Homo sapiens: one gene and its partner. The protein of the gene in region 1 purifies or fractionates together with the protein of each later gene. This does not show direct contact. Each region holds a gene or a part of one and is shown in the gene's direction. Other genes may lie near its edges.

Region 1 (4,568 bases):
GGATCCCAGGCCTTGCCTGGACCCATGGGCTAGGAGAGGGTCGCGGCAGGCTGGGAGGAGAGTGAGGCCTTGGGGGAGTGGATGGGGTGCCCCACGAAGAGTCTGCCTCAGAGCCAGGTGACACAGAGGGGCTCCAGGAGGGAGTCAGGCTCCGCTGAGAGCCCTTAGAGAGACAACCTATCTTGGGGGAGGGGCTGAAGTGACCATGCAGACCCAAGGGTACCAGAAGAGCCTCGGGGAAACGCGGCGTGGATTCGCAGGCCTTGGCGGGGCTCCGAAGCAGTGAAGGGTCTAGGTATAAGGCGGACACCCAGGCTAGGCCTGAAAGCAGAGGGGTGAGGAGGACGAAGGTGCGAGTGTGTGGGGGTTGTCTCTTGTGGGGAGCCAGCGGGAAGCCAAGCACCCTAAGAGTAGGACTCCAGATCCTTTTGTTCACCAGACTCCCCAGATTCTAGGGAGGCTGGGGACCACGGGCTGAGCCCCCTCCTGGCTTCAGTGCTGAAGGAGAAGGCAGAGAGGCAACGGGGAGAGAGACAGAGACAGTGACACACAGCTTAGAGGAAAGGAGGGGAGAGGATGAGAGGACAGAGAGAGAGAGGAGAAGGGAGACAGGAAAGCAAGAGGAAGGAAGAAGGAAAGCGGAAAAGAAGAGGAAGGAGAGAAGTGAAGACAGGAGAGAGAAGGGAGAAGACTGAAGAGAAACGAGGCAAGGAGAAAGAGAGACAAGAACAGAGAGGGAAACCAGAGAGAAGGGAAGAGAGCCGGGTGGGCACGAAGGCCCCGGCCTGGGTGAGTGCCTAGGTGGTGAATGGCCTGGGTTTTTCCGAGGCCAGCACTCGCACCCTTGGGGTCAGAACCGGAAAGAGCCAAGTCACTCCACTCTGAACGCGCTGGGCAGAAAAATATGTAAATCAGGGCTCCCTGCGCCCTGGAGAGTGGCGAAATTACTCCCGCCCGGTGAACAAGAAGCAACAAGCTCCCAGGCGGGTGAGCTGCAGAGGGTGGCAGAGTCGCGGGGGAGGGAGCGGCTGCAGTAAGGGGGGTGGGGTTCGGAACCTCACACCCTCACACCTAGTTCCTAGCTTCTAGGGAGCCTGGAGCCGGGGCTTCCCCCCCTCTGCTCGCTGCTTCTCTCCCTTCCCCCTTCCTCCCCCTCTTCCCCCTCCTTCCTCCTCCCCGCCGGCCTCGGTCCGCGTACTTAAAGCGGCGCGGGAGGGCGGACGCGGGCGGGCGGCCCGTTCGGGCGGTGGCAGATGCGCCCAGCGGTGACAGCGGCCAGCGGCGCGCAGGTGACCGGCCTGAGGCGCAGCCTGGTCAGGGAGCGCCCGGGGAGAGCTGGCGGCAGAGGGCAGCCGATCCGCCCCCAGCGCGCGCGTCTCGGCGCCAGGAGCCGTCCCGGGGCGTGTTGGCGAGCGTTGATATAGATATAAGGACATTTCTCTTCATGGCGTCACGTGACATAATTACCACCAGAATCAATCAAGATGAATTGCACGTCAGCGCCCGGTGGGGATTTTTGCTTAGTTGATCCTGGCCCAAGCCTCTTGTGCAATCGATGGCTCAGGTTGGCTGCGCGGGGAGCGGCCAGAGGCTCGCTGGCGCGCACGCCGCGGAGTCATGAACGACTTTGACGAGTGCGGCCAGAGCGCAGCCAGCATGTACCTGCCGGGCTGCGCCTACTATGTGGCCCCGTCTGACTTCGCTAGCAAGCCTTCGTTCCTTTCCCAACCGTCGTCCTGCCAGATGACTTTCCCCTACTCTTCCAACCTGGCTCCGCACGTCCAGCCCGTGCGCGAAGTGGCCTTCCGCGACTACGGCCTGGAGCGCGCCAAGTGGCCGTACCGCGGCGGCGGCGGCGGCGGCAGCGCGGGGGGCGGCAGCAGCGGGGGCGGCCCCGGCGGGGGCGGCGGCGGCGCGGGGGGCTACGCTCCCTACTACGCGGCGGCGGCGGCGGCGGCTGCGGCGGCCGCGGCGGCCGAGGAGGCGGCCATGCAACGCGAGCTTCTCCCGCCCGCGGGCCGCCGGCCGGACGTGCTCTTCAAGGCGCCTGAGCCGGTGTGCGCTGCGCCGGGGCCGCCGCACGGCCCCGCGGGCGCCGCCTCCAACTTCTACAGCGCGGTGGGCCGCAATGGCATCTTGCCACAGGGCTTCGACCAGTTCTACGAGGCAGCGCCCGGGCCCCCGTTCGCCGGGCCGCAGCCCCCGCCGCCACCCGCGCCGCCACAGCCCGAGGGCGCAGCCGACAAGGGCGACCCCAGGACCGGGGCTGGTGGCGGCGGGGGCAGTCCCTGCACCAAGGCGACCCCTGGCTCGGAGCCCAAGGGGGCAGCAGAAGGCAGCGGTGGCGACGGCGAGGGCCCCCCGGGAGAGGCGGGGGCCGAGAAGAGCAGCAGCGCAGGTAGGCACCGGGTACTGGGCAAGCGGTGGGCCCGGGGGCCGCGGGGGAGGGGGGGGGGGCGGAGGCCTCCCTCTGCTTGCGCCTTTTTATGTGCTACTTTATAAGCATTCGAAGAGGTTTATACATCCTATAAGATTTCCTGGGCCGTTGTAAAGTGTGTTTATGGTAGGAAACCAATTTAGGTGGGCTTAAGGTAGACTTCGAGGAGGACATTAATAGCTGTCGAGAGCCTTTTCCCAGTTTTGGGCAGGGGGTTGCTAGATACCATGGAGGGAGGGAGGGAGGGAGATTTCAAGCCAGTGTGAGTGCATACACCGGAGCCTCCTGCTTTTAAGGGAGAGAGGCGGGGGGTGGGGAAGTGGGGGGAGTTTGATCCTTGCACTGGACTTTATCCAAGCCGCTAGCTGACGCGCGCCGCTGGAGTCAAGCAGATGCCCCGGCGGGCCTGCTCTTGTCTCTGTTCCCTCAGGTTCCAGTTTAGAGCCTGCCTTGCCCTCTGCTTCCCCACCTCCGTGCCAGGCTCTGTGTGTGTGTGTGTGTGTGTGTGTGTGTGTGTGTGTGTCCGGGCGTGAACACATGTCCACGCCCGCACTCTCTCCTGTGCCCGCCCATATATCATCCCCCACGACGCAGGCAGGGCCTTTCGGCCGCGGCAGAGAACGTCCCCAACGGGGCCAGGGCCTGGCCCTCGCTCAGTGGCCCGGGCGGGCGGGCGGGTGGGGGCTGTCAGGCAGCGGCCTCTCTCACCCCCTGGTCTCTTTGCCTTGCAGTTGCCCCCCAGCGGTCCCGGAAAAAGCGCTGTCCCTATACCAAGTACCAGATCCGCGAACTGGAACGCGAGTTTTTCTTTAACGTGTACATAAACAAAGAGAAAAGACTTCAACTCTCTCGGATGCTCAACCTCACTGACCGGCAAGTCAAAATCTGGTTCCAGAATCGCAGGATGAAAGAAAAGAAACTGAACAGAGACCGTCTGCAGTATTTCACTGGAAACCCCTTATTTTGAGAGCTCCAGGAAGCGCCCTCACCCCAGCCCCACTCACCCACCCTCCTTCCCACCAGCCTGCTCTCCGCAGGCCCACTGTCCTTGGGTTTAATGACGTCTCTTCTCTGTGGAACTTCACGATTCCTTCCCACGGTCAACTCGGGACCTCCCAGCGACCACTGCAGCCTGCGGACGAGGCCGGGACTTGGCCGAGCGGATCCTAATAAGGGGAAAATGGTAAATGCAAACGTCCCGTTACAATTTTACCGCCAGTGTGCTGTCGTTCCCCCTCCCCCTCTCCGAGTCCTCGTGGGGACACGGCGGGGTCTGTAGGAAGTTGGGCCGGGTTGGGGGTTGCTAGAAGGCGCTGGTGTTTTGCTCTGAGTTTTAAGAGATCCCTTCCTTCCTCTTCGGTGAATGCAGGTTATTTAAACTTTGGGAAATGTACTTTTAGTCTGTCATATCAAGGCATGAGTCACTGTCTTTTTTTGTGTGAATAAATGGTTTCTAGTAAAATGGAGGTTACAGCTTCAATACACTGTATGAATTCTCCTCTTTGAGGTTTAGTGCCTCCTTAGGATATTTTAGTGGCCAGAACCCATGCAACTGAAAATCGAATGAAATACTTTTTAGTCCCACTAAAATAGTAGTCGTACCCTCCCACCACCTCTAGGTTACACTGGTTTTAAAAATCATGTTAGTGATGAATTTCTGAATTGACGATGTGACCAAGCAATGCTGGCGCTGCCTTCTCCAGGCAGTAAGGCTGGGGCAGCAGGAACCTAAGAAGAAAACTCCCACCCCCACCACTAGTCTAGTGAACTTGGGATTTCTGAAAAGACAGCAACCATTTTTAAAAACTGGTTAGAAAATCCAAATGATCTCTTACAAGCTAACAAGGAGTCACAGTCCCTTAAAAAAGAAGAAACCAAAATTAGAAACTTCCATTGAAGGGAGAAGTTTTCGAAAAGGAAGTCATCAGTAGGTGGAGAGGGCTTGCTGGTGTCATAAGTGGACCTGGAGTAGGGAAGGTAAACCCTCCCCGCCCCCACTGAAATAGGGCCAGGAGCTGCAGACCCTCTCACGGCATTTATCGCTTCAAGTTAAAGAATGTGGTGAGGGCTCTACTGCACTTTATGTTGCAGGGCCAGGCCAGGCTGTTTACAAAACCTTGAACTGTCTAGA
Region 2 (3,806 bases), on another chromosome or scaffold:
CATATTCCTGATCCCCACCATATGTTCACCCATGGATTTAGCACCCATTAATGATTATTGCCAGAATCTATTGTTGTGGTAGTTGCCGAATATCTTATGATATTTAAATATTTAAAGTTAAAATATGGTCTTTTAATTAAATTTCCTTTGTTCTGGCCGGGTGCAGTGGCTCATGCCTGTAATTCCAGCACTTTGGGAGGCTGAGGCAGGAGGATCATCTGAGGTCAGTAGTTCAGTACCAGCCTGGCCAACATGACGAAACCTCGTCTCTACTAAAAATTAAAAAACTAGCTGGACAGGATGGTGCATGCCTGTTGTCCCATCTACTTGGGAGCTGGAGGTTGCAGTGAGCCAAGATGGTGCCACTGTACTCCAGCCTAGGCGACAGTGAGACTCAGTCTCAAAAAAAAAAAAAATTCCTTTATTCTGGATTTATTATTTAGCAGTCTACTGTGGGGTAGAGCTTTCCTTTCTCCTTTATTTATTACTTATGTAGATACTCATTTGTTTCAAAATTTTAAATCAGTACAGACTCTTGGATTCCTATTGTATTCAGAGGATAACAATCAAGTTAGTTATTTATTTTGATGCTCAAATTGTCCTTTAGTTGGCCACAGTAACCCTTTCAAGCTGGTACTTGGTGTCTTTTGGACATATCCTCATTCTTATTTGATCACTTCCTCACTTTATGGTACAAGACTTTTTCTAGGATTGTCTTATATGTTTCCTGCTCTAGTCCTGGACTCAGCCATTTTTCCAAGAACCCTGGTTCCTTTTAGTAGACAGTGAGATCTGGATGCTATATGTGCTCCCAGATCTAGACCCTTGCAGTGGACAGAGCTAAGAATATATGGACATACATACATATGTACACACATATCAGTTTTAGTATTTATAAGTATTCAAAATCTTGAGTTTATAATGATTCCTCCAATTGCAGCCCAGCACCACAGGGTTTATTATAGCCTTCTCCCTTTCCATATTTGTAATTCCGTGAGGAACCTGACTTCTGTTCTTGGGGGGTTCTGGCCAACAGTGCAACTGTGGAGTGTGCCCCTCCAGTTGCACCAGCTCACAGCTATGCTTCATTCATGGGACCTCTCCCCATCTGCTGAATATCACACCTGAAAGCTCAGTTCCAATTAAGGGGAAACGAGGAGGAGGAAAGGCCTGGTGGAAAGCTTGGTTCTCTTCATGTGTCCCCCTCCCTGCTACTCCCCAGCCCCGATGTATTCCAGGAATTACTTATCTGTATTACCAGTCCCTGTGACATTTCCTAGACCAAGGAGATTATAAAAGTATAGAGAAGAATGTTTGAAAGATAAAATAAGTGGTTGACTGGATCAGATTTTACTGAGAGGTCAAACAAGGTGAGGATTTAAAATAAATTGGCAACATGGATATGTTTTGTGACCGTAATAAGTTTGCAAGTCTTCCTGTAATCAAGAACTATTAATAATAGAATTATAGAATGTGATTTGGAGATCATTTAATTACAAGGAATAGAAAACTCTTCAACTAGCTTAAACAAAAATTAGAATTTGTGGAAGGATAGAAGGGCAGCCCACTGGCATATAAAGTCCATGAAGGCAAAGGTTTCTTTAATAAACTTTCATTAAGATAAAATTCACATACCATAAAATATACCTCAGCACAGGGATTTTTTGTGTTTTGTTTAAATTAATACTGTATTCCCAGTGCTAGAATAGTATAGGACATGTAATAGCACTAAGTATTTGTTGGACAAATAAATGAATAAATAAAGAATTAAAGGGTGAGACATACGAGGAGCATCAATCACCACATGTATTAGTTTCCTAAGGCTGCCATTATAAATAACCACAAACTAGATGGATTAAAAACAACAGAAATTCATTCTCACAGTTAAACAGGCCAAAAGTCCAAAACCAAGCTGTCAACAGGGCCACATACATTCTCTTTAACGGAAGATCCGTCCTTGCCTGTTCCGTTTCTGATAACTCCCGGCTTTCCTTGGCCTCAGGCACCATACCCCCAACCTCTGCCTCTGTCTTCATGTGACCTTTGCTGTGTTTCTGTTCTCTCCTCCTCTTAGGAGGACACCAGTTATTGGATTTAGGGCTCACCCTAATCAAGTGTGATCTCAACTCTTAACTAAGGAAATCTGCAAAGAGCCTATTTTTAAATAAAGTCACATTCCGAGGTTTCAGGTGGATGTGAATTTGGGGGGAACACTGTTCAACTACACCATTATTCTCACTACCTTTCCCTGGTCTTATGGTCTCTCACTTGCTTCTTTCTGTAGATTTGCGTAATTCTCAGTGTGGACACACTCGTGTTATCCACAAGTGAACGATCCTAGCTCTGACTTATATCAACCCTACTTCTGGTGTTCAGTCAAGAATCTGATCTGTCTTAGGTCATTTTTTTTCTTGTCTAGTTAGTTGGTAAGACTGATTGGGACTGATAGGAGAGTTCATAAGAATAACGTGCTACATGAATGGGGTTGGGGATGAGTGGTGTTTCTTTTACAAACCCAGACAGAATCTCTGTTCTACACCCATATTACTACAGGATAATGAACAAATGGAAATAATATGTGTGCGTGCCACCACACAGGTCCTGATTTTGTTTTGTTTTGTTTTGTTTTTAAGTAGAGACAGGGACTCATTATGTTGCCTAGGCTGGTCTCAAACTCCTGAGCTCAAGCAGTCTGTCCACCTTGGCTTCCCAAAGTGCTGGCATTACAGGTGTGAGCCACTACACCCAGCCAGAATTCTTAAATCTTGAGTTTTTCATTGTCACTGAAAATTATCAAAAGAGTTGGCTACAGCTTGGCCATCCTTTTTATATTAATATGGTTGGAGTCAGAGTTTTATAACCTGTATAGACCTTCGAATCATCCAGTACAACTAGCTCCTGGTTATGGATGGGAAAACTGAGAACTAGAAAGGCATGATTCTCATACTATAGCATGCATCAAAATCACTTGAAAGACTTGATTCTTGGGCCCCACTGCCAGTTTCTGATTGAGTGGGTCTGGAATGAGACCAAGGAATTTGTCTGCATGCCTCCTCTTCTTCTTTCTTCTTTCTTCCTCCTCTTCCTTCTCCTTCTCCTCCTCTTCCTCCTTCTCTCTCTGTCTCCTCCTTCTCCTCCTCCTCCACCTTCTCTTCCCCCTCCTTCTCTTCCTTCTTTCTCCTTCTCCTCCTTCTCCTTCTCTTCCTTCTTTCTCCTTCTCCTCCTCCTCCTCCTTCTCTTCCGTCTTTCTCCTCCTCCTCCTCCCCCTGACTTCGACAGGGTTCTCCTCCGCCGCCGCCTCTGCCTCTTCCATCTCCTCTGCCGCCGCTGCCTCCCCCTCCCCCTCTTCCTTCTCCTTTTCCTCCTCCTCCTCCTTGCTTCGACAGGGTCTCTCACTCTGTTGCCCAGGCTGGAGTGCAGTGGCGTGAACACAGCTCACTGCAGCCTTGACCTCCTGGGTTCAGCCTCCCAAGTGACTGGAAGTACAGCTGCATGCCACCATGCCTGGCTATTTTTTAAAGTTTTTGTAGAGATGAGGGTCTCAGTATGTTGCCCAGGTTAGTCTAACTCCTGGGCTCAAACTGTCTTCCCATCTGGGCCTCCCAAAGTGCTGGGATTACAGGCATGAGCCAGTGTGCCTGGCCAGAATTTGCATTTCTAACAAGTTCTCATTGGATACTGATAGTACAGGTCTGGGGATCACACTTCTGAGAACCACCAGACTGACGGAACTGTCTGTGACCACACTTTTAGATAGTGGCTGAGTGGGGACTAGAACCCAAGATTCCTATTTCTTTTTCTCATAT

What was found.
Region 2: the proteins of HOXD11 (region 1) and LYPLA1 purify together in Homo sapiens (affinity purification with mass spectrometry; one large-scale study listed by BioGRID and IntAct). This does not show direct contact.

Annotation. Positions count from the first base shown.
Region 1 is NC_000002.12:176,105,739-176,110,306, forward strand, and holds HOXD11 (homeobox protein Hox-D11), read left to right. Parts: upstream 1-1,541; 5' UTR 1,542-1,617; coding exon 1,618-2,398; intron 2,399-3,168; coding exon 3,169-3,404; 3' UTR 3,405-4,016; downstream 4,017-4,568. UniProt on the Homo sapiens protein: Sequence-specific transcription factor which is part of a developmental regulatory system that provides cells with specific positional identities on the anterior-posterior axis.
Region 2 is NC_000008.11:54,091,645-54,095,450, reverse strand, and holds part of LYPLA1 (acyl-protein thioesterase 1), read left to right. Parts: intron 1-3,806. UniProt on the Homo sapiens protein: Acts as an acyl-protein thioesterase. Hydrolyzes fatty acids from S-acylated cysteine residues in proteins such as trimeric G alpha proteins or HRAS.